Linked DNA regions of Homo sapiens. The protein of the gene in region 1 interacts with the protein of each later gene in a biochemical or structural test. Each region holds a gene or a part of one and is shown in the gene's direction. Other genes may lie near its edges.

Evidence for each region.
Region 2: the proteins of APEX2 (region 1) and MFHAS1 form a complex in vitro, tested with the Homo sapiens proteins (one large-scale study listed by BioGRID and IntAct).

Annotation. Positions count from the first base shown.
Region 1 is NC_000023.11:55,006,353-55,009,764, forward strand, and holds the end of APEX2 (DNA-(apurinic or apyrimidinic site) endonuclease 2), read left to right. Parts: intron 1-165; coding exon 166-1,083; 3' UTR 1,084-2,705; downstream 2,706-3,412. Other genes in the region: ALAS2 (5-aminolevulinate synthase, erythroid-specific, mitochondrial isoform a precursor), read right to left, coding at 2,828-2,991. UniProt on the Homo sapiens protein: Functions as a weak apurinic/apyrimidinic (AP) endodeoxyribonuclease in the DNA base excision repair (BER) pathway of DNA lesions induced by oxidative and alkylating agents.
Region 2 is NC_000008.11:8,796,120-8,799,933, reverse strand, and holds part of MFHAS1 (malignant fibrous histiocytoma-amplified sequence 1), read left to right. Parts: intron 1-2,442; coding exon 2,443-2,569; intron 2,570-3,814. UniProt on the Homo sapiens protein: Probable GTP-binding protein. Functions in innate immunity and more specifically the inflammatory response as a regulator of the Toll-like receptor TLR2 and TLR4 signaling pathways.

The DNA of each region.
Region 1 (3,412 bases):
AATCCCAGCTCTGCCAATTCCGGACTGTGTGACCTTGAGCAGTAGTCCTCTTGGGACAACCAAATTTTCTTATTTGCAAAATGCAGCAGTTAGTCTAAGTCCCTTCCAGTTCTAGGTATCTAGTTCTGTCTCTCTCTCTTCCAACCCCCTTTCCTCCTCACCTAGGAATGCTTTGAAGAGGACCCAGGGCGCAAGTGGATGGACAGCTTGCTCAGTAACTTGGGGTGCCAGTCTGCCTCTCATGTAGGGCCCTTCATCGATAGCTACCGCTGCTTCCAACCAAAGCAGGAGGGGGCCTTCACCTGCTGGTCAGCAGTCACTGGCGCCCGCCATCTCAACTATGGCTCCCGGCTTGACTATGTGCTGGGGGACAGGACCCTGGTCATAGACACCTTTCAGGCCTCTTTCCTGCTGCCTGAGGTGATGGGCTCTGACCACTGCCCTGTGGGTGCAGTCTTGAGTGTGTCCTCTGTGCCTGCAAAACAGTGCCCACCTCTGTGCACCCGCTTCCTCCCTGAGTTTGCAGGCACCCAGCTCAAGATCCTTCGCTTCCTAGTTCCTCTCGAACAAAGTCCTGTGTTGGAGCAGTCGACGCTGCAGCACAACAATCAAACCCGGGTACAGACATGCCAAAACAAAGCCCAAGTGCGCTCAACCAGGCCTCAGCCCAGTCAGGTTGGCTCTAGCAGAGGCCAGAAAAACCTGAAGAGCTACTTTCAGCCCTCCCCTAGCTGTCCCCAAGCCTCTCCTGACATAGAGCTGCCTAGCCTACCACTGATGAGCGCCCTCATGACCCCGAAGACTCCAGAAGAGAAGGCAGTGGCCAAAGTGGTGAAGGGGCAGGCCAAGACTTCAGAAGCCAAAGATGAGAAGGAGTTACGGACCTCATTCTGGAAGTCTGTGCTGGCGGGGCCCTTGCGCACACCCCTCTGTGGGGGCCACAGGGAGCCATGTGTGATGCGTACTGTGAAGAAGCCAGGACCCAACTTGGGCCGCCGCTTCTACATGTGTGCCAGGCCCCGGGGTCCTCCCACTGACCCCTCCTCCCGGTGCAACTTCTTCCTCTGGAGCAGGCCCAGCTGAACCAATGGAGGCCTGGGGACATCTGGCATGGTCACCCCTGCACATGATCTGAGGCCAGCTCCCCTTCCCTGAGCTGCCTCCTGCTTCTCCCTCAAAGTCTCCTACCCTTCTCTTCCTCTTTTAAGCCCTCTCTTCCTCGCTTTCCTTCCTACCTAGCTCCTTGTTGGTGAGCTTCTTGTGCCTTAATCCTGTGACCCAGCCCCTTACACCACTTTCCACCTTCCTGTCCGAAGTACACGGACACTAGCTGCCCCAGGAAGTTGTGTGATTTTAAATCACTTCTGTCTTTGCTGGAAAGTGTATTTGTGCATAAATAAAGTCTGTGTATTTGTTTCAGGGTTGCACTTTGGACATTGTGGAGGTACTCCATAAAGTTGAGTCAGAGAAGCTATCTCAATACTTGGTTTGCCGGCTGGCTGTAGCCCAATGATGTAATTCCCAGAGAAAGGGGAGGAGGGAGGGGGGAGGAGGGAATAGTGAGGCGTGAGCAGCAGTGCTCACCATAAAGGGTTCTCTGCTCAGTTGTAGGAATTTCCTGTACGGCTAAGGTGAAATCAGCAAGGAAGGTGGGCTGTGTAGCCTTAAACCAGAGCTTTCCAGCTAGTGCGTCCCACAGCTGCCACAGTGGGTTACAGGGTTGAAAGAAACGGTCCTCAGCCCTCAGAGTTGCCAGGCAGGGCCTGGGACCACACAAGTTTCAGGGACGATTGCCTCCTTAGCAAGTAGTATCATTAGTACCCCTAAGTGTGCCATGGAAATGTTTCCTGTATACTGTGACCTGGAAAGTGGGAGCATTGCTTTGAACACAGTGCTTGCTCTAGCCAAGCCTCTTCTCACCTTTGAAAATGGGACTGGTAGACCAGGCACAGTGGTGCACGCCTGTAATCCCAGCACTTTGGGAGGCTGAGATGGGTGGATCACCTGAGGTCAGGAGTTCGCAACCAGCCTAACATGGTGAGACCCCGTCTCTACTAAATACAAAAAAATTAACTGGGCGTGGTGGCGCGTGCCTGTAATCCAAGCTACTTAGGAGGCTGAGACAGGAGAATAGCTTGTACCTGGGAGGCGGAGGTTGCAGTGGGCTGAGATCATGCATTGCACTCCAGCCTGGGCAACAAGAGTGAAATTCAGTCTCCAAAAAAAAAAAAAGAAAAGAAAAAGAATGGGACTGGTAAATCCTGTTCTGTGGGATGCCGTGGGAGGGAGAGAGGATAATGGATTGAGGAAGACATCCATATCCCCTTATGGAAAATACCTCTTTGGTTTTGGGGAACCACTCCTTTCTAGGGAATTTGGTTAGGGCTGACTCATTTCCTGGCTTCAGGGGCTACCCTGGGCCCAGATTTCCAGGGCCCGGATTACCAGTGAAGCGTCAATCCCTGGATTTTTATTGAAACCATTGGAGAAGAGCCATCTCAAATAAATCTGCCAAGTATCCTAGCTCTTTGCAACTCACTGTGTAGTTTTTGGGCATTTCCTTCCTCTTTCTCATTCTGTTTCCCTGTTGGTAAAATGGAATGGTGACCAACAAGTGACCTATGGTTACCTCATAGATCTGCCACTTGTCTGAGGGAGTCAGAATGCACTTGTCTGTTCCCTGTCCAATAAAAGGCTTCACATGCTGTGGTTTGTGCTTTATTTTTAGGCTCAATTCAGCTAGAGGCACACAACAAAGCAGAAGACAGGAGTAGGCCTGGACCCAAGTGAAGCGCAGGTGGGGTGTGAATCCTAGGCAGCTGGCTTCTCAGGCATAGGTGGTGACATACTGGGGCCCCATGTTCCCGAAGTAGGAACGTTCCCACTCACTCATGAGCTCAAAGTGTACAGGACGGCGACAGAAATTGCAGGCAGCCACAGACACATCCTGGAGGGGCAGCCCCACCGCAGTCCAAGCCAGCAGCAGCTTCTCTGAAGGTGGTAGGGGGAGGGGAGGGAAAAAATGGGTTAGACTAGATCTTCCAAATCTGTCACAGTACAGATGAGCCAAGATATTGATCCCCCTCAACCCTTCAAGATACCTCAGGGCCAGAAGTAGCCTACTGTTTGCTTCTGTGTGTGCCGTGAATATTACCATTTGTATCTGGATGCTGGGATATATATTATAAAAGATTTGGAAGCTCTCCTTTGACACAATTTGAAGCCATACTGTCCTGGCCTGGACCACTCCCTAAGTATAGGATGTGCTGTGGCCCAAGAATGACTGTCTGCTTGGGAACTCTAAGCCCTATGAGGACAATGATAATGACAGTAACTATACTGTGTCATTGGTGCTATGACCAGGAAACCTGGGGTAGGGGGTCCACCTGGGGGTGTGAAAACCCAGAGAAGG
Region 2 (3,814 bases), on another chromosome or scaffold:
CATTAGCATCCTCATTTGTAAAATGAGGATAAACCCATCTAGGGCCATTGTGAAGATTACACGAGGTGTACATTTAAAACTGCAGGCCCAGTGCTGATATGGGCCTGCGCTATCAGTGTGGCCTTTGCGGGGGATGAGACATTTAGAAATACGGTGTTTTTGTTTTCTTTTGCTCTTTGAGACGGAGTCTCACTCTGTCGCCCGGGTTGGAGTGCAGTGGCCTGATCTCAGCTCACTGAAACCTCTGCCTCCTGGATTCAAGTGATTCTCATGCCTCAGCCTCCCGAATACCTGAGATTACAGGTGCCCGCCAACATGCCTGGCTGATTTTTGTATTTCTAGTAGAGACTGGGTTTTACCATGTTGGCCAGGCTGATCTTGAACTCCTGGGCTCAAGCGATCCACCCGTCTTTGCCTCGCAAAGTGCTGGGATTAGAGGCATGAACCACTGTCCCAGCCAGAAATACAGTACTTTGAAGCAAAGGAATTTCATATCATTATACGTCAGCAGATACAGTGGTCCCCTTATCCATGGTTTCACTTTCTGTGATTTCAGTTACCTGCAATCAACTGTGGTCCAAATACATGTGAATGCAGCATAATAATAGTTTTTGAGAGACCATATTCATAAAAGTTTAATTATTAATACAGTATATTATCATTGTCCTATTTATTGTTGTAAATTTCTTACTGTGCCTAATTTATAAATTAAACTTTATCATAGGTATCTACTTATAGGCAAAAACATAGTCTGTATAGTCTTCGGTACTGTCCTCGGTTTCATGCATCCGCTGGGGTCTTGGAACGCATGTCTGAGGGATAAGGGGGGACTGCTCTTCTTTGGAGTCTCTAGAATTTCTTTTCTTTTTTTTTTTTTGTTGTTGTTGAGACAGATTCTCACTCTGTCGCCCAGGCTGGAGTGCAGTGGCGCAATCTGGGCTCACTGGAACCTCTGCCTTCCGGGTTCAAGCGATTCACCTGCCTCAGCCTCCTGGGTAGCTGGGACTACAGGCACCTGCCACAAATGCCTAGCTGATTTTTGTATTTTTAGTAGATGTGGAGTTTCACCTTATTGGCCAGGCTGGTCTCGAACTCCTGACCTTGTGATCCACCTGCCTCAGCCTTCCAAACTGCTAGGATTGCAGGTGTGAGCCACCGCGCCCAGCCCGGAGTCTCTAGAATTTCAAGTCAGCAGTAGAAGTGGTTGGTGCAGAGAGTTGAAGTTGTAATTGCAGTAGTGTCTTTCCCCAGTTGGTGTACATTTCACATCCTTGATTTGGTTAATTGACTTTCTAGAAGCCAGACATGGTGGCTCACACCTGTAATCCCAGCACTTTGGGAGGCTGAGGTGGGAGGATTGCTTGAGGCCAGAAGTTTGAGACCAGCCTGGGAAACATATCGAGACTCCTGTCTCTACAAAAATAAAGTAAAAGGTTAACATTTAGCCAGATGTGGTGCTGCATACCTGTGGTCCCAGCTATTTGGGAGTCTGAGGTGGGAGGATCACCTGAGCCTGGGAGATTGAGGCTGCAGAGAGCTGTGATTAGGCCACTGCACTTCAGCCTGGGTGACAAACCAAGAGCCTGTCTCCAAAACAACAACAAAAAATTTAGTTCCTAGGTTTAAGTAGGGCAGTTTGAACAATAATGTGTCCCATCTGCAGCCAGGAGCTGTTTCTTGAGTACTCTCTGAGAAAGGGCAGGGTGCCCTGGGTATATGGATGAGAGAATGGAAGTCATCACTGCTTTTAGAGATGTAATGATCTAGTTGAAGAGAGATTACATCCAGGGCATGCAGAGTAATAGCGTTCCTTTAAGTATTGTGGTGATCCATTAGGTTAATTATGTGTTTTTGCTAGACTCGTTAGATAGTGTTGTGTCGTGCATCTGCTTCACACATACCTATCAGGGCAATCCCCTTGCCCAGAGGAGGCTGGGCTGATCTTAGGCTGTTTGTGTTTTTAACACTTTTAGTCTGCTGTGTTTCCAGATCATTTATATAGGGCTTTGTTGAATGGTTGCTGTGGTCTGCTTGAGTCCCATCTGCCCCAAATCCTAATTATGAACACCTCCTTGGCAGCCCTTGCTTCGGTGGGCTCTGGGGACTCTGGCTCAGTCGTTGATATCTAGATAAAGATCCCTGGAGTCAGTCTGTTAAAAGGAAGGTGAGCAGAGCAGTGACAGATGCTGTCTTTGTCTAGTGTGGGCCTTCCTGCCATAACCATGAAAATTTTCTCCACGGTGACGCAGAGGAGGATTTAGGCGCTGGAGCCGGCGCCCAGGCAGTTCTGCTGTTCTTGGTTGCACATTTGTTCTCACATCCTTCGTTGCTTCACCTCTGCCCTTCTCCCCCTGCCCCCATCCCCGGGCAGTGCTGTCTTTGTAAAATGAGCCCATTTTTAGTGCACATCTCCCTAACACGTTTTTCTCTCTCCTCCTACAGGGGAGTTGCTGAGTCAGCCCAGACCGGAAGGAGTGGCAGAGATCATTTGCCCCAAGAACGGCAGCGAGCGAGTAAATGTTGCCTTGGTTTACCCACCCACGCCGACTGTGATCAGCCCCTGTTCCAAGTGAGTTCTCAAAGTCCCTCTGGCCCCGGGACCTGGCTCCTGATCCCAGCTCCATAGATATGACCACAAAAATCCAGGTTAAACTGCATCTGCACAAACCTTGCAAAGTCCTCCTGAACAGACATAATTCTTCTGGATGACATCAGCATCATGATTTATGCAGCAAAACAGGAACTTTTATTTCCTCTTTTTTGTGATTTTTTTTTTTTTTTTTACTTTAGCTAATAAAGTCAGAACATTTTTTAACAGCCTTTTTGAGATGTCATTCACATACCACAGTTCACTTACCTAAGTGTACAGTTCATTGGTTTTCAGTTTATTTGCAGGTATATGGAACCAAAAAGAACATTTTTTTTGTTGTTGTTTTTTGAGATGGAGTCTCGCTCTGTCACCCAGGCTGGAGTGCAGTGGTGCGATCTCGGCTCACTGCAAGCTCCGCCTCCCGGGTTCACCCCATTCTCCTGCCTCAGCCTCCCGAGTAGCTGGGACTACAGGCGCCCACCACCATGCCCAGCTAATTTTTTTGTATTTTTAGTAGAGACAGGGTTTCACCCTGTTAGCCAGGATGATCTCGATCTCCTGACCTCGGGATCCGCCCGTCTTGGCCTCCCAAAGTGCTGGGATTACAGGCGTGAGCCACCACGTCCGGCCTTTTTTTGCCTTTTTTTTTTTTTTTGTTTTGAGACGGAGTCTTGCTCTGTCGCCCAGGCTGGAGTGCAGTGGCGCCATCTTGGCTCACTGCAAGCTCCGCCTTCCGGGTTCGGGCCATTCTCCTGCCTCAGCCTCCCGAGTAGCTGGGACTACAGGCGCCCGCCACCGCGCCCGGCTAATTTTTTTGTATTTTTAGTAGAGACGGGGTTTCACCCTGTTAGCCAGGATGATCTCGATCTCCTGACCTCGGGATCCGCCCGTCTTGGCCTCCCAAAGTGCTGGGATTACAAAAGAAAATAGTTTTTTGACGGGCAGTCTTAACTCTGTCATTGCAGAATGAAGTTGGCTCTCACATCAAAAACCAGCGCAGGCCCATTCCATGAGCAAAGCCTGCAGAAAGTCAGTAATAGGCCGTTTTCTGTTGCATGGTTCTGATTGCGGAGTCAGTCCCTGAAAATCAAGGGCTGTGCAGTTTGCCACCACCTTGCCCCAAAATGGACTTGAAGACAGAGAACGCACACATGCCAAGTAACTTTCAGATAGAACATTGGGTTACTACTATTCTAGATAACACTCATCCTGTTGGTTTGGGTT